7 linked regions of the Homo sapiens genome follow. The protein of the gene in region 7 purifies or fractionates together with the protein of the main gene of each other region. This does not show direct contact. Each region holds a gene or a part of one and is shown on either strand. Other genes may lie near its edges. The genes, in order: ASRGL1, DNAJB4, PEX7, MOB2, SATB1, PAPOLA and PLPBP.

What was found.
Region 1: the proteins of PLPBP (region 7) and ASRGL1 fractionate together in Homo sapiens (co-fractionation; one large-scale study listed by BioGRID). This does not show direct contact.
Region 2: the proteins of PLPBP (region 7) and DNAJB4 fractionate together in Homo sapiens (co-fractionation; one large-scale study listed by BioGRID). This does not show direct contact.
Region 3: the proteins of PLPBP (region 7) and PEX7 purify together in Homo sapiens (co-immunoprecipitation; one large-scale study listed by IntAct). This does not show direct contact.
Region 4: the proteins of PLPBP (region 7) and MOB2 purify together in Homo sapiens (affinity purification with mass spectrometry, with the first as the bait; one large-scale study listed by BioGRID). This does not show direct contact.
Region 5: the proteins of PLPBP (region 7) and SATB1 purify together in Homo sapiens (affinity purification with mass spectrometry; one large-scale study listed by BioGRID and IntAct). This does not show direct contact.
Region 6: the proteins of PLPBP (region 7) and PAPOLA fractionate together in Homo sapiens (co-fractionation; one large-scale study listed by BioGRID). This does not show direct contact.

Annotation. Positions count from the first base shown.
Region 1 is NC_000011.10:62,343,948-62,347,447, reverse strand, and holds part of ASRGL1 (isoaspartyl peptidase/L-asparaginase), read right to left. Parts: intron 1-3,500. UniProt on the Homo sapiens protein: Has both L-asparaginase and beta-aspartyl peptidase activity. May be involved in the production of L-aspartate, which can act as an excitatory neurotransmitter in some brain regions. Is highly active with L-Asp beta-methyl ester.
Region 2 is NC_000001.11:78,011,439-78,014,938, forward strand, and holds part of DNAJB4 (dnaJ homolog subfamily B member 4), read left to right. Parts: intron 1-1,612; coding exon 1,613-2,181; intron 2,182-3,500. UniProt on the Homo sapiens protein: Probable chaperone. Stimulates ATP hydrolysis and the folding of unfolded proteins mediated by HSPA1A/B (in vitro).
Region 3 is NC_000006.12:136,871,092-136,874,591, forward strand, and holds part of PEX7 (peroxisomal biogenesis factor 7), read left to right. Parts: intron 1-1,106; coding exon 1,107-1,162; intron 1,163-3,500. UniProt on the Homo sapiens protein: Receptor required for the peroxisomal import of proteins containing a C-terminal PTS2-type peroxisomal targeting signal. Specifically binds to cargo proteins containing a PTS2 peroxisomal targeting signal in the cytosol.
Region 4 is NC_000011.10:1,473,280-1,476,779, forward strand, and holds part of MOB2 (MOB kinase activator 2), read right to left. Parts: intron 1-3,500. UniProt on the Homo sapiens protein: Stimulates the autophosphorylation and kinase activity of STK38 and STK38L.
Region 5 is NC_000003.12:18,418,840-18,422,339, reverse strand, and holds part of SATB1 (DNA-binding protein SATB1), read left to right. Parts: intron 1-1,348; 5' UTR 1,349-1,372; coding exon 1,373-1,583; intron 1,584-3,500. UniProt on the Homo sapiens protein: Crucial silencing factor contributing to the initiation of X inactivation mediated by Xist RNA that occurs during embryogenesis and in lymphoma.
Region 6 is NC_000014.9:96,554,382-96,557,881, forward strand, and holds part of PAPOLA (poly(A) polymerase alpha), read left to right. Parts: intron 1-1,465; coding exon 1,466-1,566; intron 1,567-1,793; coding exon 1,794-2,032; intron 2,033-3,500. UniProt on the Homo sapiens protein: Polymerase that creates the 3'-poly(A) tail of mRNA's. Also required for the endoribonucleolytic cleavage reaction at some polyadenylation sites.
Region 7 is NC_000008.11:37,772,645-37,776,144, forward strand, and holds part of PLPBP (pyridoxal phosphate homeostasis protein), read left to right. Parts: intron 1-110; coding exon 111-245; intron 246-2,664; coding exon of another isoform or gene 2,665-2,694; coding exon 2,695-2,837; intron 2,838-3,273; coding exon 3,274-3,372; intron 3,373-3,500. UniProt on the Homo sapiens protein: Pyridoxal 5'-phosphate (PLP)-binding protein, which may be involved in intracellular homeostatic regulation of pyridoxal 5'-phosphate (PLP), the active form of vitamin B6.

The sequences.
Region 1 (3,500 bases), on a different chromosome or scaffold from region 7:
TGGGGAGCTGGTTGCCAGGGAACCAATCGTGTAATCAGAGGGCCTGAACTTTCAGTCTCACCCCTCTATCTCCGAGGAAGGGGAGAGAGACTGAAGGGTTAGTTGATAACCAATGGCCAACGATTTAATCAATTGTGCCTATGCCATGAAATGTCAACTAGAGAAAAAAAAATTGAGCTTTTAAATAATTAGTTTTATTTAGAAATCTTACTGAGGACTATAGACTGATGACTATAGTCCAGAGGGGTCCTTCAGAGAGGTGCTGTCAAACTGCTTCAAAACTGTGTCTCCCCTTAGAGCTGATATACAGGTTGTGGAGGGTTAGTACATGCTCAAAGGTTACATGAGACTTCCTCAGAAGTTACATTAAAACAGAATCACATCAAAGTTTGGGTGCAAAAGTGCATCTGGCTATAGATGACAGAGGTATGCATAATCGCTAACCTTGTCAGACGTTATTTTTCTTTTTTTTTTTTTTTGAGACGGAGTCTCACTGTCGCCCCAGGCTGGAGTGCAGTGGTGCCATCTCAGCTCACTGCAACCTCTGTCTCTCAGGTTCAAGTGATTCTCGTGCCTCAGGCTCCCAGGTAGCTGGGATTACAGGCACCCACCACCATGCGAGGCTAATTTTTGTAGTTTTAGTAGAGATGGGGTTTCACCATGTTGCTCAGGCAGGTCTCGAACTCCTGACCTCAGGTGATCTGCCTGCCTCGGCCTCCCAAAGTGCTGGGATTACAGGTGTGAGTCACTGCGCCTGACCCAGATGTTATCTTAAGTGTAGGAAAAGGCAAGACTAGGATCATTTATCGTTTAAGACATACAGTGACTCGGGCAAGAGACATGGGGGCTGTGTGCTCTATCCAATTTTGTCTTCAAATCATTCTTCCAGAAAGCGGCACATCTGCACATCGTCACAGAATCAGGGGCTTCATGAAATGATGTTGGCATGAAGAAATTAGCAAACATGGCTTCTTACGTTTGTTACTCAGTCTCACAGAAGCCTCCATAAAAACCTGTAAGGGCTGATGATGGGAGAGCTTTTGGATTGCTAGGTATGTGAAGGTGCCAGGAGGGTGGTGTGCTGAAGAGGGCAGGGAAGGTCCACACCCCTTCCCCCATACCTTGCCCTATGCATCTCTTCATCTCCCTGTCTGTATCCTCCATTATATCCATTATTCATATAATAAACTGGTAAATATATTTCTCTGAGTTCTGTGAGCTACCCTAGCAAATTAACTGAATTCGAGGAGGGAGTCATGGGAACCCCAATTTATAGCTGGTTGGTCGGAAGTAGAAGTGACAAGCTACTACTCAAGATTGGCATCTGAAGTGGGAAGCAGTCTTACGGGACTGAGCCCTGAACCTGTGGGATTGGACTCTGACCCCAGAGAGGCAGCGTCAGAACTGAACTGACCTCACCCTATGCAACTCTTCATCTGTATCCTTTATCATAGGAGTCCCCAACCCCCAGGTACTGGTACTGGTCTGTGGCCTGTTAGGAACTGGGCCCCACAGCAGGAGGTGAGTGGCAGGCGCATGAGCATTACTACCTGAGCTCCGCCTCCTGTCAGATCAGCAGCAGCATTAGATTCTCATAGGAGTGTGAACCCTGTTGTGAACTGTGCCTGCGAGAGTCTCTGTGGAAACACTGTCTTCCATGAAACTGGTCCCTGGTGCCAAAAAGGTTGGGGACCACGGCTTTATCATATTCTTTATAATAAATTGGTAAACATAAATGTTTTCCAGAGTTCTATGAGCCATCATAGTAAATTATCAAGCCTGAGGAGGGGGTCATGGTAACCCTTGATTTGTAGCCACATTGGACAGAAGTGTGCATAACCAGGGGACTTGCAATATGCCTTTTCAACAATTGGTGCTGGGCCACGGGTGGTGGCTCACGTCTGTTATCCCAGTACTTTGGGAGGCTGAGGCTGGTGGATCACTTGAGGTCAGGAGTTCAAGGCCAGTCTGGCCAACATGGTGAAACCTTGTCTCCCCTAAAAATACAAAAATTAGCCAGGCATGGTGGTGGGCGCCTGTAATCCCAGCTACTCGGGAGGCTGAGGCAGGAGAATTACTTGTACTCGGGAGGTGGAGGTTGCAGTGAGCCAAGATCACGCCACTGCACTCCAGGAAAAAAAGCAAAAAACAAAAAACAACCCTGAGTTCCTCAAAAATCTAAGAATACAGCTACCATGTGATACAGCAATCCCACTGCCGGCTACACACCCAAGAGAAAGGAAATCAGTATATGGAGGAGTTATTTGCACTCCTTGCTTGCTGCAGCATTGTTCACAATAGCCAAGATTCGGAAGCTACCTAGATGTTCATCAACAGATGAATAAAGAAATGATACATATACACAATGGAGTACTACTCAGCCATAAAAAAGAATGAGATTCTGTCATTTGCAACAACATGGATGGAACTGGAGGTCATTATGGTAAGTGAAATAAGTCAGGCACAAAAAGAAAACCTTCACATGTTCTCACTTATTTGTGGGAGCTAGAAGTCAAAGCAATTGAACTCATGAAGATAGAGAGTAAAAAGATGGTTAGCAGAGGCTGGGAGATAGTGGGGGTGGGGCAGAAGTGGGGATAAGTAATGGGTACAAAAAATAGAATGAATATGAGTTAGTATTTGATAGCACAACAGTGACTATAGTCGATAATTTAGCTATACATCTTAAAATAACTAAAAGAATATAATTGTTTATAACACAAAGGATAAATGCTTGAAGGGATGAATATCCCATTTACCCTGATTATTATGCATTGCATGTCTGTATCACAATATCTCACGTACTCCCATAAGTAAATACACCTACTATGTAGCCACAAAAAAAAAAAACCAAAAATGGAATCTTGATATATACCTTGCATCGTATACAAAAATTTATTCAAAGTGAATCACAGACCTAAAACTTCTAGAAGACAACACAAGAAAAATGTTTGCAATGCTGGGTTAGGCAAATATTAAGATACAACACAAAAAGCATGACTGGTTTAAAAAAAAACTGATAAACTGGACTTCTGCAAAGTTGAGAACTTCTGCTTTTTGCAATAAAATATTGAGAAAGAAAAGACAAACCACAGACTGAAAGAAAATATCTGCTGATTTTTCTGCATTGACACATCTGATAAAAGCTATATCTAGAATATATAAACAACTCTTAAAACTCAATAGTAAGAAACAACACCAACAAAAAAATCAGCAAGACTTTGATACTTCACTGAAGAAATATGAACGACAGGCCAAGCGCAGTGGCTCACACCTGTAATCCCAGCCCTTTAGGAGGCTGAGGTGTGTGGATCACGAGGTCAGGAGTTCAAGATCAGCCTGGCCAACATGATGAAACCCCATGTCTACTAAAAATACAAAAATTAGCTGGGTGTGGGGTCACATGCCCTGTAATCCTAGCTACTCAGGAGGTGGAGGTTGCGGTGAGCTGAGATCGCGCCATTTCTCTCCAGCCTGGGCAGCAAGAGTGAGACTCCATC
Region 2 (3,500 bases), on a different chromosome or scaffold from region 7:
TTATTAGAATTTTTTTCACTCTCTGACACAGAGTTCTATTTTAATTCTTTTTTTTTTTTTTTTGAGATGGAGTTTTGCTCCTGTTGCCCAGGCCGGAGTGCAATGGTGCAGTCTTGGCTCACTGTAACCTCTGCCTCCCAGGTTCAAGCGATTCTCCTGCCTCAGCCTCCCAAGTAGCTGGGATTATAGGCATGTGCCACCATGCCCAGCTAATTTTGTATTTATAGTAGAGACGGGGTTTCACCATGTAGACCAGGCTGGTCTCGAACTCCTGATCTCAAGTGATCCACCCGACTCGGCCTCCCAAAGTGCTGGGATTACAGGTGTGAGCCACTGCACCTGGCCCTATTTTAATTCCTAAACAGTAAAAGATGATCTGAAATAAAACTAGTTAGAATGAATATGGTATTTTTATTACATTATATTTTTACATATTTCTATTTTATTTATATATAAACAGTATGAATATGGTATTTTATATTTTGCTATATATTTTATTAATATATTTATATTTTTAAATGTTATATATATTGTTTGATTGTAATAAAAATTAAAGATTTAAGTTCTGCACTTTGTGTTGATTGCTGAAGACCTTCCAACTGACATCTTTTAAAAACTTATATATTTATAAGTAGATACTTATATAATTTATATACTTCAGCATGCCAGATCAGTAGTTTATAAGGAGTTCCCAGTTTTATTTTCTTTTTCTTTTCTTTTCTTTTTTTTTTTTTTTTTTTTTGAGACAGAGTCTCACACTGTTGCCCGGGCTGGTGTGCAGTGGTGCGATCTCAGCTCGCTGCAACTTCTGCCTCCCAGGTTCAAGTGATTCTCCTGCCTCAGCCTCCTGAGTAGCTAGTATTACAGGCACCTGCCACCACACCTGGCTAATTTTTTGTATTTTTAGTGGAGGCGGGGTTTCACTGTGTTGGCCAGGCTGGTCTCAAACTCCTGACCTCATGATCTGCTTGCCTCGGCCTCCCAAAGTGTTGGGATTACAGGCATGAGCCTCTGCGCCCGGCCTTATTTTATTTTTCTTACTTACCCGTGGAACAAAGAATCAGGAATAAATATTAGAGATGCTGATTTGGCCGGAAGCAGTGGCTCACACTTGTAATTTCAGCACTTTGGGAGGCCAAGGCAGGCAGATCACCTGAGGTTGGGAGTTCGAGACCAGCCTGACCAACATGAAGAAACCTCGTCTCTACTAAAAATACAAAATTAGCCGGGCGTGGTGGCACATGCCTGTAATCCCAGCTACTCGGGAGGCTGAGGCAGGAGAATTGTTTGAACCTGGGAGGCGGAGGTTGCGGTGAGCCAAGATTGCGCCATTGCACTCCAGCCTGGGCAAACAAGAGCGAAACTCTGTCTCAAAAACACAAACAAACAAAAATGCTGATTTGGAGGAAGAATTTGAAAACTTAACAATTTAACTTAGGATGTAATCATCAAGAGTTTTATAGCTGTTCTGTATTTAGTAAAGTGGCATTTCTGGCCAATATTAATACATTTTAATGTAAGTTAGCCAAAATTTATTAGCAATACAGTTTTTGAAAGTTTAACTTTTAAGAGTTGCAAGCTTTTTTCTAATCATGCTTATCTCTTCAATTAGGGTTGAAAGGAGGAGCAGGAGGTACTGATGGACAAGGAGGTACCTTCCGGTACACCTTTCATGGCGATCCTCATGCTACATTTGCTGCATTTTTCGGAGGGTCCAACCCCTTTGAAATTTTCTTTGGAAGACGAATGGGTGGTGGTAGAGATTCTGAAGAAATGGAAATAGATGGTGATCCTTTTAGTGCCTTTGGTTTCAGCATGAATGGATATCCAAGAGACAGGAATTCTGTGGGGCCATCCCGCCTCAAACAAGATCCTCCAGTTATTCATGAACTTAGAGTATCACTTGAAGAGATATATAGTGGTTGTACCAAACGGATGAAGATTTCTCGAAAAAGGCTAAACGCTGATGGAAGGAGTTACAGATCTGAGGACAAAATTCTTACCATTGAGATTAAAAAAGGGTGGAAAGAAGGCACCAAAATTACTTTTCCAAGAGAAGGAGATGAAACACCAAATAGTATTCCAGCAGACATTGTTTTTATCATTAAAGACAAAGATCATCCAAAATTTAAAAGGGATGGATCAAATATAATTTATACTGCTAAAATTAGTTTACGAGAGGTAAGTTGGTAGGACCTAAAATCCTAAGACCAAATAATTATGTAGTTGATCATAGGGAGTGTATCTAGATAATAGCTAACATTTATTTAATGCCTATTATACGTTAAAAATAATTACTATAAAAATCCTCTAAGATAGTACTAGTATTATACCTCTTTTATGGATGTGATTATATTTTCTAACTTTAGTTACTTATAATTAAAGTGTCAAGTGTTAACTGGATTATGTACTATGAGGCTGCTTTTACAAATGTGGTTTATGAGATCTGCATTGGTAATCTCAACACATTAGTCTTTGTATATAGGGTTTGTTCTAAATTTGTTAATATGGAGTAATAATTGCATACCAAAAAAGATTAGAAGAAAATAATTTATAATTCACTACAAATTTGTATACATTTATATTAATAAAAAATACATTTATAAGTGCATATAAATATATACATTTATAAATTATAATGCTACTATGTTAATACAATTATTATTTGAGTTCTTATTTGCACTATTTCTTTTTTTTTTTTGAGACAGAGTCTTGCTCTGTCACCCACAGCGCAATCTCGGCTCACTGCAACCTCTGCCTCCGGGTTCAAGTGATTCTCTTGCCTCGGCCTCCTAAGTAGCTGGGATTACAGGCGCCCCCCACCACACCTGGCTAATTTTTGTATTTTTAGTAGACACAGGGTTTTACCATGTTGGCCAGGCTGGTCTTGAATTCCTGACCTCAGGTGATCCACTTGCCTTGGCCTCCCAAAGTGCTAGGATTACAGGCATGAGCCACCACGCCTGGCCTATTTGTACTATTTCTCAAATTGGATTGTAACTTTGCAAATATGGTCATAGCAGTTCCCTGCTTCAAATTCTTAAATTGCTCTATATAACCTCTACCATAAAGTCCAAACTCTTTAGCTTAAAATAAGTCATTTTAAATCTGATGTCTACCCATAAAATGTATATGCACTTCCCCAAGTTTGCTCTATTATTATTATTATTATTTTTTTGAGATGGAGTCTCGCTCTGTCACCCATGCTGGAGTGCAGTGGCACAATCTCAGCTAGTACTGCAGCCTCCACCTCCCAGGTTCAAGTAATTCTCCTGCCTCAGGTTCCTGAGTAGCTGGGATTACAGGTGCCCGCCACCATGCCCAGCTGATTTTCATATTTTTAGTAGCGATAGGTTTTCACCATGTTGGCCAGGCTCGTCTTGAACTCTTGACCTCAAGTAATCCGCCCACCTCGGCCTCCCAAAGTGCTGGGACTATAGGCATGAGCCACCGCACCTGGCCCAGTTTGCTCTATTATTATCTTGTATACTTGAGCTGTA
Region 3 (3,500 bases), on a different chromosome or scaffold from region 7:
ATTTGTTTAATTGGACAAGTTTTAGCAGTTGAAAAATATGCTCTATGTATATTTTAGAGTGATTATGAGAATGAAATAAGGTAATGTAGTGAAAGTACTTTGCAAACTAAGTGCTGGTCAAATGTAGTTATATATGTGTATTTAACTATTAAAGTGCGATAAGACAAACACTGAAGAAATGTAATTGCAAAGGTCAACTTATTAAGTACATTATTACTCATCTAGAAGACGTTACTTGTCTTTAAACTTGCTTTTTACCCTTGATATAATTTTCCATTAGCTGTAATATACAAATAACGTAAAAATAACTTAAGGGTGTTTTTATTTAACATTTAAATGTTTATTTTGATAACGTGATTATAGCAATCATATATTTGTAAAATTGGTAAATTATATAATTATATATTTGTACTCTTATATACTTAAATCCCTTATATTTGTAAGAATCATTTTTGTTTATTACTTTGTTTGCTTTTGCTTTTTTTGAGCCAGAGTCTCTCTCTGTCGCCGGGGCTGGAGTGCAGTGGCATGATCTCGGCTCACTGCAACCTCCACCTTCTGGGTTAAAGCAATTCACCTGCTTCAGCTTCCCCAGAAGCTGAGATTATAGGCATATGTGCCACCATGCCCATCTAACTTTTGTATTTTTAGTACAGGCGGGGTTTCACCATGTTGGCCAGGCTGGTCTCGAGCTCCTGACCTGAGGTGATCTGCCCTCCTGAGCCTCCCAAGGTGCTGGGATTACAGGTGTGAGCTGCTGCATCTGGCCTGTAAGAATCATTTTTGGATAGCCAATATGAAATTGTATTTAATTTTTCCAGAATAGCAACATTTTGGGAATATTTTATTCTAAATAAGTTCTAAAAAGCTTGAGGGATAATTTTCTTTGGAGAATGTAAAAATATTTTTCCTGAAGATGGATACTTATAAGGCCAGAAGATTTTTGCCTCAAATTATAGCATATATGCTTTGAAAAAGCATAATTTTAAGTGACAGCTCTGACTCAACTTAAATTTATTATAATGTTTATGGAATGATCATAGAAAGCAGTGTTATAATCACAGCTGACTTCAAAAAGGGTTTTTTTTTTCTTTTTTTTTTTGTAGTTTTCACCATTTCATGCTTCTGTGCTGGCCTCTTGCTCGTATGATTTTACTGTAAGGTACAGTGGTTTTTAATACATTTCATTGTGAAATACCAGGTAACATTTGCATCTTTGCAACTTTTATAAGAGATAATATGATTACTCTTACTAACATGAAAATAATCTGAGATGGGTACATTTAAATATTTACTAGGATTAATATTATATTTTTCCTGTTTTCGTGATCCAGTCACATATATGAGTAAATTTTTTCTCTTCAAATATTAGCCTGGCTATTCTGTTTAAAAGCCATCTTTTCTAATAGATGTTCCTATGGTAACACTTTCCTACACTATAGATGGCATAGCCAATATATTCTAAATTTAGATATAGAAATTTGGAAATTGCATTTCTTCAGGTCTAATTATATGAGTCGTAAGGCTAAGATTGCTTAGATGAAAAAACAATGAACATGAGTGTATGATTTTTTGTGAATGTAGATATATGAACATGTATGTGTATATATGTGCATGGATATCTAGATAAGAGTGTGTGTGGGTGTGGGTCTCTATTTATACTTCCAGTTACAGTTCCATACCACAGAGGATTTATTTTCCCTTTCCAAATTTGTAACTCTTGACTTCCATTTTATTCACAATATATTTTCTTATGTGTTAAACCCTGTAATGCTTAGAAAGTAGTTCAGAATTGCAAAGCCATACCTTTGAAAAAAACAATCTTACTAATTAGAGCTCAGCACTTGCTTAGAGTTTTTTTTGTCTTTAGTTTGAATACTATATTCAGAAGTTACTTAGGTTAATTCTCCTCTTCTCTGTTAGAGTGTGGTTATGTTATTCACTTGAAACATGGTTTGATTCCTTTGTTTCTGTTTGTATTCAATTTTAGGGTTTTCCTCCCATCCTTGTTGATTTTGTCTAGGCAAAACATTGACATGGTTTCAAAAGTCAAGATGTACATAAAGATATATTCAGAAAGGTTTCCAGGATTTTCACTAAAATATATCCTGGAAATCATTCTGTATCAAAGAGATCATTCTCATTCTGCATAATACACCATTGTGTGGATGTGCTATAGTTTATTTGGCTACCCTCCTATCTATGGACATTTAGCTTGTTTTCAATGTTTTGTAAATAAACAGTGCCACAGTGAATGATAGCTTTGTGTTACTAGAGAATTAATGTCTGGTATTCCTAGAAGTGGGATTGCTGAGTTAAAAGGTAAACATATGTAGTTTTGTTAGATATTACCAAATTCCCATCCATAAGGAATATGCCAATTTTGATACTCAGTAGCAATGTTTGAGAGTACCTGTTTCTCTGCCTTCTAAAGATCATTGATTCATTAAGGTTTTCCAGATGTATGATCTTATCACCTGCAAATAAAGGTGGTTCTACACCTTCATTTCCAATTCTGATGCCTCTAATTGATTTTTCTTAAAATTCCCTCCACAAATACCACTAATACAGTGCTAAATAGTTTATAGAGAATGTCTGATTCCTGATATGAGTACAAACGCCTTTAGTGTTTCTCTATTAAAAATAAGATTCTGACTTTAATGCAAATTATATATGTTTACTTGTTTGTCATACTAAGAAAGTATGCATGAATTCCTATTTTCTTGAGTTTTTTTAATTAGGAATGGGTCTTAAGTTTTGTTGAAGGCTTTTTTTCCCAGCATTTATGGAGATAATCATGATTTTTCTTCTTAGAGATATGGCTATGATGTATTATATTAATGGATTGAACCAACCTTGCATTCCTGGAGTAAGTCTCTCACGTTCTTTGTGTATCATTTTCTCACCATGGTGTTGAATTGTGTTTGCTAATATTTTATTTAAAGCTTTTGCGTCAATATTCAAAGGTGATATTAGTTGCAGTTTTCTTTCTTTTCTCGTTTTGTTTAATGTGTCTGTGTTTTACTTGCTTCATAAAAAGAATTAAGAAATTTTCCTTTGTTTCCAAAGCTCTGGAACAACTTGTACAGCATTGAGGCTATTTGGTCTTTGAATCCTTTGTAGGATTGCTCTGCAAAACTAGTGGAGCATGGTGCTTTTTGTGGAGTACTTTCTTGATAACTTCATTTCTTTCATGGAAGTGAGTCTGTTTAAACTTTGTATCTCTAACGGGATCAAGTTTGGAAATTGTCCCTTGCTTTTAGGTTTTCAAATTTATTCGTAGAGGTGTCTGTAAAGTGGGTGGACACAGTGGCTCATGCCTGTATTCCCAGCACTTTGGGAGGCCAAGGTGGGCAGATCACCTGAGGTTAAGGGTTCAAGACCAGCCTGGCCAACATGGTGAAACCCTGTCTCTACTAAAAATAGAAAAATTAGCCACGCATGATGGCAGGTGCCTGTAATCCCAGCTACTTGGGAGGCTGAGGTGGAATTGCTTGAAC
Region 4 (3,500 bases), on a different chromosome or scaffold from region 7:
TCCCAGGCTGCAGGCCTCACCGTGGGCATCGCCACCAGGCTGTCAGACCCTCTGAGAATGCAGAGACAACAGTCCTTTCAGCATCTGCTCCTCGAGAATGATGTAGAGGACGCACGTATCCCCACTGTCCTGGGGTTCCCAGATGGTGTAGGGGAGGCCCAGCCCCTAAGGGCCAGGCTGAGGCCCATGTTTCCAGGGCGAGGACCCAGCCAGGATGGCTCAGCACTCTGCAGGAGTCAGACACTGGCTCCAGGTACCCTGACACTGCAAGCTGACATCTGATGCACCTGGCCACAGGTGTGCGACAGGTCTCAAAACAGTGGAGGTTAGAGACGGAAACCCTTTTCCACAATGCAAACCCAGAGAAAGCAGTAACTCAGGGACACTGTGGATTGTCCCATCTGTTCTGAAAGATGGAACACCACTGTTTCCTGTACTTCTTCAATTATCAGTAAACCGTTTCTGGTATATAGTTCTAAGATTTTTATCCACATGTGGACTCACGCATTCATAACCACAATCAGGACACGCGGCGGCTTACGTGGCCCCTCACACCCGTGCTGCTGTGCCCCCAGCACCCCGGGGATGGCTCCTCAGGGATGGGCCGCGGGAAGGAATCGCACCGCGCGGATCCTCCCGATCTGGGCCCCTCTTGCACGGAGGCCCCTGGGATGCAGTCACGTGGCAGACGTGTCGGAAGTCCACGGCTCCTCACTGCCCAGACACTGCCCCTGCAGAGATGGACATGGCGTGCTCATCTATTCACCTGTGTCCCTGCCAGCAGAACAGAGTCCCAGGTGGCCACATCCTGGCCAGCACCAGTGTCCCGACCGGCATGTGGGCAGGTGGACATGGGTCTGCCCATGGTTTCGGCTTGCCTTTCTCTAATTGCTAACAACACAGGATAGCCCCAGCTGCCATCCTTACACCCTCTTTGGCAAACTGTCTGCTCATTTCTTTTGCTGACAGTTAACTGGACTGTTTTGTTTTCTTACTGCTGAGTTGTGTATGTTCTTTATGTATTCTGGATATCAGTCCTTTGTGGGATGTGTGATTTGCAAATGTTTTCTCTCCCAGCCTGGAGTTTGTCTTCTTTCTCTTAAAAGTGTCTTGAAGCAAAAGTTCTGAATTTTGCTGCCTAGTGTCAGGTCATAAGGATTTCCTATGGTTTCTTCCAAAAGCTTTGGAGTTTTAGATGTTTGCACGAGGCATGAGGGATAGGTCAGCGTTTGGTTTTTGACACAAATGACTGCTTTTCCCAGCAGCATTTTTGAACAGACTACCCTTTCTCCCTTGAATTTATTTTGCTCTTTGTCAAAACTCTGATGGCCCCGTTTGTGTGGGTCTATCTCCGGACTCTCCATCCACACGTTTGTGTGGGGCTGTCTCCGGACTCTCCATCCACACGTTTGTGTGGGTCTATCTCCGGACTCTCCATCCACACGTTTGTGTGGGGCTGTCTCCGGACTCTCCGTCCACACGTTTGTGTGGGGCTATCTCTGGACTCTACTGTGTTCCATGGAGCTCTGTATCCATTCCTTCAACACTGCACACTGTCTTAATTACTAGAGTTTCACAGTAAGTCTCAAAAGTGTGAGATTCCTCTTATTTTTTCAAAATCATTGTAGCTATTTCAGTTAATTTGTCCCTCCATATAAATTTTAGAACTAACTGGTCTATACTTGAACTCTGCTGGGATTTGGATTGAGACTGCACTAAATCAACAGATCAGTTTGGGGGAGAATTTGTGTTTGGAGTCATCTTCCAGGTGATAAACGCAGTGCGTCTCTCCATTTATGTAGACCTTCGATTTTCTGTAACAGCATTTCGTAGTTTCCAGGGTGCAGATCCTGGGAATGTCTTGTTAAGTTTATAACTAAGGATCGCATTATTTTTGGAGCTATTATAAATGGCATGTTAAATATTAATTTCAGTTTTAAATTTCACATTGCTAATATACAGACCTATGACTGATTTGTGCGTGTTGACCTCACTAAATTTATATTATTATTTGCTACAATCCTTGAGGTTTTCCCAATCACACGTGTGCACAGGGATACAGCAATCCCCCCCATCCACAGGGGATGCACTGCAAGACCCCCAGGGGATGCCTGAAGCCACAGAGAGCACCAAACCCTATATATGCTGCGCTTTCTCCTATACATACATTACTAAAATAAAGACAGGCAGACTTGATTGATTGACTGAGATAGGGTCTCGCTGTGTTGCTAAGTTAGTCTCGAACTCCTGAAGTGATCCACCGCCTCAGCCTCCTGAGTAGCCAGGATTACAGGTGTGAGCCACCACACCCAGTGTAATTCATAAACTGAGGACAATCAGTTGCAGTGAGTGGCTGGGGTCGCATATCAGGGGGTCCCTTGCTGGCCTCCTGCAGGCTCAATGGCAACACGCTGCTGCTCCCATCCTCTCACCTCCTCCACCCACAGATCCAAGTACTCAACACGCACTGTGGCTGTCACTTTTGCAATTTCAGATGTAACAGCGAAATTAAAGGGACTTTTTTTCCCTTTTTCACAATTTCATAAAGAAGAGATTTGTTCTTACCTTAGATCTTAGCAACCTCACACACAATCTGTTTCTTTCTAGTCAGGAACTTTCACCTTTTCATCTTTAGGTCAAGGAAGTGCTTTCTGTCTTCTCTTTGGCATATCTGAATTGCCAGCATCACGCTCTTGCGCTTTGGGCCGCCTCATGTCACATAAGAGCAACCTGAGCACGAGCACCCTGGCACTGCGGCAGTGGATCCACACGGGGGCCGAGGCACAGCTGGGCCGAGGGAGGAGGAGGCACACCTGGAGCAGGACGGTGGAGACCGCATCACACTGCTCAGAACAGCATGCAGTTGAAAACTTATTAACTGTTTATTTCGGGAATTTTCCATTAACTATTTTCAGACCATAGTTGACTGTGGGTAACGGAAACTGTAGATAAGGGGGGCTTATTGTTTTATTTCTTTTCCAATTTGGATGCCTTTTATTCTTTCTTCTTACCTTATGGCACTGCCTATCTTAGGCGAGTTCTGATATACTGCGCTTTCCAAAGAGTTGGTCCATTTAACCCAAGCCATAGAATTCATGTGCACAGAGGGTTTTTTTCCAATACTTCCTTATTATCCTTTTAACATCCACTGGGTCTACAGTGATACTCCTCTTTACATCCACAGGGTTTAGTGACACTCACTCCTTTTTATTGATCATTGCATCTTCTCTCTTATCTTTGTACCTACTAAAGGCTTACCAATTTATTACCTTTCAAAGTCATCACATTTTGATTTCACTCATTTCCCCTATTGTTTTAAAAATCAATCTCAGTGCTTTCTGTTCTTATTTACTTTCTTGTCCTTGATTTTGACTTATTTTGCTCTTTTTCTAGTTTAAGTTGGAAACGTAGATTACTGAAAGTCATCTTCTTTTTCTAAGAAAGCATTAATCCTATAAATCCCCTCTAGGCACTGCTTGAGTTATGTCTCACAAATTCTG
Region 5 (3,500 bases), on a different chromosome or scaffold from region 7:
GGTAAGAAGTAGGCTATGGTTAAACAGAAGAAAAAATATTTACAGAAAAGCCATGCTAATACAAACTGGCTTTCAACAAATCCAGATTTAAATAGCTCCAGTGTAAGAATTTACAACAAAAACAAGCTATATCAAATTACTAGACAGCTAGGAAAAATGGTAATTATTCTCTCTGGTTTTCCTAAATATGATCCCCTTAGTTTCATAAGCTCAATACTTCAAATACCATCAAAGTTCATAAAATAATTCTACTTACCTGTTCTTATCAATTCTAATTAAAACTATACTTTAAAAATGACTTTGATATTGTCTAATCACTTTACTATAAATGATGGGAAAATTGATGTCTAATATATAACTGAAAATAATTATCTGTTAATTTTTTTGAAGTTAATTACAATGTTAATGCCATTGCATGCTGAGGTTATTTCTGAATACTGGATATTTTGTTTTACCAGTATCATCAAGGTTTTTTGTTTGTGTTTTTTTTTTTTTTAATTGAGCTTGGCACTTCAACCTAATGTGCATATCACGAAGTGTATTCAATTTTTTAAAAATATTTATTGTTAACAGCCCTCTATTACTAATGGACACCTAAATACTGACTCTAAAACACATGAGTTTTAATGCATCAGTACGTTGGATATTTGAAAACCCTTCACTTCTTCCTGTTTCTTTAGGGGTAAACTGATCCAATCACATCTTTGGCCCAAAACTTGACTAGGTCTGTCACATAACTCTTGGAACTTTGATAGTAGAAAACTTTTTCTATGCATTAATTTACAAAAGCCAATGGGGAGTTTAAAAAGCAGTTAGATGTTTGTTACCTTCTTTTGAGATGGTTTATGTTTTTTTCATAAGAATTAATATACATACACATATAAAATGTATACATATAAAACATATACATTAGATTTCTAATATTTTGAACTATGATCATCTTTCCATCCTTTATTAAAGTGTTTCTGCTGTATTTTGTAATGTGTTTCTAATTGTTAAAAATTGGGACTACGTAAATGCAATTTGCTGTTTTCTTTTTAGCTATACTTGTAATAATTCTTGTTCTAAAAGTAAGCCCATTTTTCCCCACTTAGTTTTTTTATAGGCCAGTTATCTTTTTATTCATGTGTATTGGTACAGTTTCCACAGATCATTTTGTTAATTTGAATAAGAATGTAATGCTATCATCTAGAAATATAGTAACATCTGTATCATATCTAGATAGGCCATTTTACAAATACATTATATTTGTGGAGAGATATCTAGAGCTAAAACATTTACATAGGACACATATATACACGTAGGTCCCCGCCCAACTATAACGTGTCTTCTTTTTAAATTCTGGCAGGTGATCTTTAGACAGTGACTGAGTATGGATCATTTGAACGAGGCAACTCAGGGGAAAGAACATTCAGAAATGTCTAACAATGTGAGTGATCCGAAGGGTCCACCAGCCAAGATTGCCCGCCTGGAGCAGAACGGGAGCCCGCTAGGAAGAGGAAGGCTTGGGAGTACAGGTGCAAAAATGCAGGGAGTGCCTTTAAAACACTCGGGCCATCTGATGAAAACCAACCTTAGGAAAGGTAAATACCTTCAAGCCAAATCTTGAAAAGCTGAAAGCCCTGTTGTCTACACAAGGCCACACTGTGTGGGGGTGGAGTGGCAGAACATGTTTTGTATACTCTGCCTTTATTCTCCTTATGATCGTACATTAGTTACATTCTGGGTCCTTAGTATCAATCACGTTGGAAAGTATAGCCTCCATGCTTGGGTGGAGCGTTCTACTGTAGACTGGAATCATGGAACATTTTGGGTAATAAGGACTGAATTAAATATAATGGTTTTAGTTTTGGCAGGGTCCATTCAAAAGGTGTTGTAGTCGAGGATTGTAGGCAGCTGTTTCTTCAAACTAACCTGATTAAGAATAAAACACTTAGGTGATTTGAGAGTTACCCTAGCTTCTTCCTAAGATTCTTAGTTGTAGGGCAGTTTCAGAGATCTTGGACATCTTATGTAGAAGTTTGGTAATGTTATTTTTTGTGGCTTATTTTCTTAAGAGCAAATTCATTAGCAGTAAAAAATCTGATGATTCTAGTTTTTTATTTTTGTTTTAATTGGGTATTTTTGATGAAGAAAGAACAGATTTAGGCAAGTTTATAAGGGGAAGATGTGTAACTGTGTGACTTTTTTCTACCAATATTAAATTGATGCAGTTTAACAACTTGGACTGTGTTTAACAGTGTTGTTCCTGTAAAGCAGTGCCTACCCTGGGTGTAATGCATGTGCCTCATAAGGAGCTTCATTTTGTGTCTGAATAACATGTATAGGAATCAGATTTTCCTTACATTTGCTAAGCAATGGATAAAAATGCTATATTTTAGCAACCAAGAATATTAAGTAGATAAAGTTAGAAGGCAGAGGAATTTCATTGTGTTTGATGCGTAACATTTATCATACAATCATTTATTTTTTCCTTGGTTTGGCGAAAACAAAGAATATATTGATCCTGAAATGAACAGACACAGCAGTCCGTATTGTTAGATCTTTATCTATTAAAAATGGGAAAACAGCACTTCAGCAAATTCTTTGGCCTCTACTCATGATTACCCTATTTATTGATTGTTTGCCAAGAATGTATGCATCTTAAGAAAGCCAGGGTAAGAGCATTAAAAATATAATTTATTACGGCTTTTCAAACAGAGTGCATTAATATTGTACTGTGAAGCACTGGGGCTGTATAAAAAAGACTTTCTGACGCCTGCAAACATGTAAGTTCCATAAATTCCTAAATAGGAGATTTCAGCTGTCTCTGGTATTATGTGATATTTGCACAGCAAACTTTAATGCCAGGACAGTTTTAGACAAGGATTCTACAGACTTCACTGCTCCTTATGGCAGACGTGCTGTTTACACAGGCTCATAAACCTTCAGCAAAAGCTTCTAAGACTGCCTTCAGGTTTAAATCATGTGGTATTTTTAGCATTCAGCAGTGACCAGTGCTCTCCCCTTTAAATGCTGGAAGGTTATGAAGTTGCTGTAGTTGGAACTCTCGCCAAACACTAGCACGAATAATCATACAGTTCAGAAAAGGCTTGTGTTCAGCATTACTCCCAGAAACGGGAGGGTAACCGCAACAGTTTGCTAGAAGGTCTGTAATTAGATAGTACTATTGTCACTTTATAGCCGTCTTTATTATTTTAGGGTACCTCTAAACATGATCAATAAAATCCACAATAAATCCAATATATTTCAATAGTTTGAAAACCCTGCAGTTATTTCATAGATCTAAGGAAAAGCATATTGTAGAATACATCTGATTCATCCTACAAAAGGAAAAATGAATGTGTACATTTTTGTTGTACTTACCCAACTCTTTGAAGATATCAGGACAGGAGGAGGAAAACTAAAAGTACAGTAAATTCACTTCCTGCTCAAATGCTTTTTGGTTTTGTTTTGTTTTGTTTTGGATGTATTCTAAAAATGCAGTTTAATTGTAGGAG
Region 6 (3,500 bases), on a different chromosome or scaffold from region 7:
TCCCCTCTTGATATTGTCCCTGAGTGGTAACACCTGCTCTGTTGACTACATTTACATTCATATACCAATGATATCCATAGCTTTAATAAGTTGACTGCTCCGTGGTTCCCTGTGGATGTCATGTAAGTACCAAAAATAACAAGTCTTCGAAGTGTTGCCTACCTCCTCATGGTGTCATCATTCACCAGTTTCAGAGTGTGGGTGATAGCTCTGAGAGAGAGAGAGAGAAAGAGAGACAGACACACACACACACAGACACAGATAGAGACAGAGAGAGAAACCAGAGGACTTTTCTGCTTTTGTTTTTCTTTTAGGAGGTAATAAAACCGTGAATTTATTTAAATGCTAATGTGTAGGATTTACTTGAGACAGGAAAATTGGATGGGAGAGTAAAGGAGTGTGATGATTTGAGTTTCTTGAGATGACAGGAGTTAGTGAGATTTAGAACATAGATTGGGCTTTTTTATATAATAAGGAATAATTTCTTTGTATAGGAAAGAATAGGGGTTAATTATAGAAATAGGTGTGTCTCTTTAATATTTATACTTAGAATTTGGGGTAATACTTGGCTAGTGGCTTTTGGTTGGTTGTTAAGTAGGAAGGTCATTTGAGATTGGCATGAGAAAGAGAAAATGAGAGAGAAACTTCGGGGGAGTAAAGAGGGTTTAAAATAAGTTATTTTAAAAGTAAGATATTGAAATAATCCCCTTGTCACTTAAAGGTCTTTAACTGGGCCACTGGATGGGCTTTTAGGGTTTTATAAAACTCTTATACTTTGTATACAGAAGTTTATTTCTGTTTTCTGTTTCTCAGAACATTTGCTCATTCATAACTTTTTTTTTTTTTAATAATATAGGTTTTTTTTTTTTTTTCTTGTAGAGACGAGGGCTCACTGTGTTGTCCGGGCTAGTTTCAGACTTGAGCTCAAGCAATCCTTCCACCTCACCTCCCAGAGTGCTAGGGTTACAGGCGTGAGCCACCATGCCTGGCCTCTTATTAATAACTTTTTAAAGGATTTTTGTTCGAAAAAATCCTTCAGTTAAGTCTCTTAGCCAAAATTAGCTAAGAATAGATCTTTTAGAACCACTCTGGCGATATAGTAGCCAGCCGCCATATGTGACAATTTAAATTTAATTAAAATTAAATAGTTTCTCACTAGTCATATTTTAAGTGCAGAGTAGCTATGTTTTAATAGTGGCTACCATGTCCAGTAGCACAGATATAGAACATTCTGTCATCTCAGGAAGTAACATTAGACAGTGCTGCTTTAGAAGGTTTGTGTACTATTTACTGTTGTTATACTTTATCCAATAAAGTCAGTTGCTAAATTGTATGTATAGGAAGTAAAACCAAAGAATCATTTACTTTACAAAATAATTTCTATATATGTTATAGATTATTGTAATTTTTTTTTTATTTTTCTATTTTTAAATTTTGAGACAATTTTTAATTTTTTTTTTTTTAGCAGAAACAGTCCTGCTCCAGCTGTAACAGCAGCATCTGTGACCAACATACAGGCTACTGAAGTTTCTGTGCCACAAGTAAATTCCAGTGAAAGCTCAGGGGGTAAGGAGATTGGGTTTGTCAGGTTTGAGAATTCTTACATTATATTTGGTTTAGCCTTCATTTTGAAAAGTGGGTTTGTTAAGTAGTTGAAATTCAGTTTTTTAAATGCCAGTTTATTTTTTGCATGTAAAGTTATTCATGAAATCAAATTCAGAGAAACAAAAACTTACAACTTGATACTGATTTGGTTATTTTAATTTGTATATACTCATATATTTGCTGCTTAGGTACATCGAGTGAAAGCATTCCTCAAACTGCCACACAACCAGCCATTTCTCCACCACCAAAGCCTACGGTCTCCAGAGTTGTTTCTTCAACACGTCTGGTAAACCCACCACCTAGATCTTCAGGAAATGCAGCAACTTCAGGAAATGCAGCAACAAAAATACCTACTCCTATAGTAGGAGTCAAGAGGACATCCTCACCTCATAAAGAAGAGAGTCCCAAGAAAACCAAAACAGAAGAGGTATATATATGAAAAACATATTAGTTAGCCATGGCAACACCAACTGCCTATTTTTAAATCCAGTGGAAGAAAAGTTTATGAACCAAAATAGAGAAGGATCAAGGAACAAAGCTTTTAGAAAATTTTAGGTGTGTCTGTAGTGCTTTAGTGCTGTAGTTTCTCTTCACCTTTCCCATTCTTCTCAGTAACTACCTCTGCTATAAAGCTATGCCCTCTCATTTAAACTTCTTTAGTGTGTGTAGTTAGCAGGTATTGTCTACAACAGAATTTAACATGAAATTACATGTATTCTTAACTTATTATTCTCTAATGACTACCTTTTATTTGTACTGATTTTTTGATGGTCCTTTGGACAGTTTTTTGCTTCTGTGATCCAAAAGGAGTTTTGGAGTTTCTCTACTGTACTTGGTGTTATAGGACCATCAAATACCAGAGGTTCTCAGGGACTTCTTACTGAATGATAAGTGCATGCAGCCAGATTAGTTTTTGAACCTTAAATGGTTAGCTCTCTAACCCTTAAAGAAACTTTCTAGCATCATTTGCATTTTTGTTTTTTAACTCCTGGGCACAGGCGATCCTTCTGCCTCCCAGGTAGCTAGACCCACAGGTGCATGCCACCATTTCCAGCTTAATTTTTTGTTTTTTGTTTTGAGACAGGGGCTGGCTCTTTTGCCCAGGTTGGAGTGCAGTGGAGCAATCTCAGCTCACTGCAACCTCTGCCTCCCGGGCTCAAGCAATCCTCCCACCTCAGCCTCCCAAGTAGCTGGGACTACAGGTGCGCACCACCATGCCTGCCTAATTTAAAAAAAGATTTTTTTGTAAAGACAGAGTCTTGCTATGTTATCCAGGCTTGTCTCCAGCTCCTGGGCTCAAGCGATCCTCCTGTCTTGGTCTCCCAAAGTGTTGAGGTCACAGGAACCACTATGCTTTGCAAGCTGGTATTAACCTTTTATACTACCTGGTTTATAATTGTTACAGTCTTAGTTTTGGGAAAACCATTAAAACTGTACATTGATTTCGTATGAGTCTTAAAATAGAGGTAGTCTTGTTACACAATTTTATTTCTCCCTCGAGTCACTTTCATGTTGTTTTCCAATCAGTGAGGCATTTGCAATTGCCCCAGAGATGACAGTCTAAAAGCACCAATTTCATTGTGTTTTTTTTTTTTGCTAAGAATGTATTTAGTAATTTACTTACTACAACACAATTTCTTTAGAGTGGAAAAAAAACCCCTCTAGATTTCTCATGGATTCTATTATGTTTTGATTAAGAATGGTGAAAAATTATTTTATTATTTTATTATTTAGCTTATTCTCTGAAGACTTTTTCTTTCTTTTTTTTTTTTTTGGAAATAGCTGCTATTAACTAAAAGTAATCTGATGAATTTTGTCACTCTTAAGATGGTAAATGAGAATGAAAAACGGGTATTGTATAGTACTTTAAATCCCCCAGATTACTTACGATGCCT
Region 7 (3,500 bases):
TTTTTCTTTTCCTGGCATATTTTTTCCTCTAACAAGTCAGAGATTTGTTGCATGTTACTTGCTGCAATAGAGCAAATAAGGAATACTACTTTGCCTCTGTCTCATTACAGCTGTCCCCAATCTCTTCATGCTGGAAACAGTGGATTCTGTGAAGTTGGCAGACAAAGTGAACAGTTCCTGGCAGAGAAAAGGTTCTCCTGAAAGGTTAAAGGTTATGGTCCAGATTAACACCAGCGGAGAAGAGAGTAAGTAACCAGACCTGAATTGTAGATTTTTCTTCCTTTAGGATGGTTGAAGCTTAGGGAGAATGGGTGGGCCCAAGTGTCTGATGGATAAGGTTATAGAAACAAATCACAGGATCACAGGCCTCTAAGTTGGCTGTTTTATGTGTGATCTAGGTAGCATAATGGCATGCAAAGCAGTCTATGTATCATTCTTTACTACATCATGGTTCATTATATCTTAATTTTAGGGGAAGAAGAATGGATGGGGAGTTCAAGAAGGGGATTGTGACTTCGTTTTGTATTTTTGTTTTTTTTTTGAGATGGAGTCTTGCTATGTCGCCCAGGCTGGAGTGCAATGGTGCGATCTCGGCTCACTGCAACCTCCGCCTCCCGGGTTGAAGCAATTCTCCCACCTCAGCCTCCCAAGTAGCTGGGACTACAGGCGTGCACCACCACGCCTGGCTAATTTTTGTATTTGTAATAGCGATGGGGTTTCACCATATTGGCCAGACTGCTCTCGAGCTCATGACCTCTCAAGTGATCCACCCATCTCGGCCTCCCAAAGTGCTGGGATTACAGGCGTGAGCCACCACACTCAGCCTTTTTTTTTTTTTTTTTTGAGACAGAGCCTCACTCTGTCGCCAGGCTGGAGTGCAGTGGCACGATCTCAGCTCACTGCAACCTCCGCCTCCTGGGTTGAAGCGATTCTCCTGCCTCAGCCTCCCGAGTAGCTGGGATTACAGGCACGCGCTACCACGCCCAGCTAATATTTGTATTTTTAGTAGAGACGGAGTTTCGCCATATTGGTCAGGCTGGTCTTGAACTCTTGACCTCAGGTGATCCACCCACCTCAGCCTCCCAAAGTGCTGAGATTAAAGACATGAGCCACTGCACCCGGCCTGGGATTGTGTCTTTCATCTGGAAACCCCCAAAGGTCACCATCACTCCTACAAGGAGTATTTTAAATTTTTAAGACCTAAGATTATATAAATACTCTTAGATCTTAAAAAAATTACTTGATGTTGCATTGGGAGAGAATGGAAGATAATTACTGTGAGTGGGCCAGGTGCGGTGGCTTACACCTGTAATCCCAGCACTTGGGAAGGCTGAGGCAGGTGGATCACCTGAGGTCAGAAATTCGATACCAGCCTAGCCAACATGATGAAACTTCATCTCTACCATACATACAAAAATTAGCCAGGCATGATGGTGTGCACCCATAGCCCCAGCTGCTCGGGATGCTGAGGCAGGAGGATCCCTCGAACCCAGGAGGTGAATATTGCAGTGATCCGAGATCGCGCCACTGCACTCCAGCCTGGGCGACAGAGTTAGACTCCATCTCAAAAAAAAATAAATAAATAAAAAATTATGGTGAGCACCAGTCAATGAATATCTTTATGGGGCTTGGATTAACAGTGTAACATAGTGTGAATAGAAGCATGGGCTTTGAAATCAGACAGACCTTGGGTTTCAGCTACACTACTTTCCAGTATTGTAACCTTGGATAAGTTACCTAATCTCTCTGTACTTCAGTTTCCTTTTTTGGCAATGGTATCATGAGAATGCTTACTTCAGAGGGTGTGGTTAGGACTGAATATGATAATCCAGGCAACATTGTTAGCACAGAACCCTACACATGTTGTTAGCTATTCGTTAAGAATAAATGTATACAGATCAGGCATTTGATTGCAACCATCAAAGCACCAGTATTCACCAAATCTTAGTATGCAGGAACACAGTAGAGGCATCTGTTTTCTAGATAACGTCCTAGAGTCAGACTACCTGGGTTTAAATCCCAATTATCAATAGAAATCTGAAATCAACTATAGGTCAAGTCTTTATTGTATCATTTCTTGATAATTAGCTATAATATGCCCTATTTAAAGACTGAAGTAAATGTTACTAGTATCTCCGCCTAATAAATGGGGGCAAGACAATATCAATAGCTCTTATAACTGTATAACAAATAATTGCTTGCTGCAGATTTCTCTTCCAGTTGTTAATTAGAAAGTTCAGTTAAACTTTGCTAATATATAGCCAAAAATATTTAACATGTACTTTATACTAAATTTTTTGCAACTCCATTAAATTAATAAAACTATAAAAATTCTTGATTTAGAAAAGTAATTCTCAGGTTCATCTGGCATTTTGGCAATGCAAATCTTCCTGGTATCCCAAAAAAGCAAGATTTTTTCTTTTCCATGTCTCCTAGCTGTTTTCAGCTGAAATCCTGAGATGGAGGAAAGAGAATCCAACTGATAGTTCTTTTCTTGAGAAATTTAGAACCTGACCAGAAGCAGAGCAACATAGAAAACCCCAAGTATAAAGTTACTCTTTAGGACTTGAGGCTCTTTCAAGAGGTTCTCTTGTTGGGGGTCACCTCTTCTGTCGTAAGGAAGGGAGGAAAATGGAGCCTTCCTCTGGCCATTTACCCTTGCAGTATACCTGTTTTCTGTTTCTTTTCTTGAAGGTAAACATGGCCTTCCACCTTCAGAGACCATAGCCATCGTGGAGCACATAAACGCCAAGTGTCCTAACCTGGAGTTTGTGGGGCTGATGACCATAGGAAGCTTTGGGCATGATCTTAGTCAAGGACCAAATCCAGACTTCCAGGTACTGGGGGGTCGGGGAGATTGCTCGTGTGCTAAAGAAGCAGGGTGCTGGAGTGCTATTGCAGGGCTGGCTGCAGTGGGGATTGCAGAGTCATCCCAGACACTGCCTGTTGAGTGTTCTAGCCCTCTTTTGAACTCTTCTCAGAAGGAAAAGGGAAGAACAGGTTTCCAAAGCCCCACAAACCTTTTTCAACTCAACTTGAACTTGGCTAAAACATAGTCTTTAGAGAATATGAGATTTCTTCCTCTCCAGTGACTAATAGTTTTCTCGAAAGTGGGATAGTTTGCAAAAAACCCTTTCAGTAACGTCTGGCAATTTTGGCAGGCCTTGAAATCATAAGGAATACATAACCGTTGTCAGAGAAGTTCAGATTCAGACACTTTTGGGCATCGTTAGAGAAGGCAGGAGTAAAATAGGTGTCATCTCTTTCTGTCAGCTGTTATTGTCCCTCCGGGAGGAGCTGTGTAAAAAGCTGAACATCCCTGCTGACCAGGTTGAGCTGAGCATGGGCATGTCCGCGGATTTCCAGCATGCGGTGAGTGTCCTGCCAGTGCCCTGTCTGCCTCGAGGGGTGGGGGTAGGGGGTCTGAGAGGCTGACACAAGAGCAGATCTTTGCTGTAGAAGCCTTGGAAATGCCTTGGGATGGCAGTAAGGTACCCAGT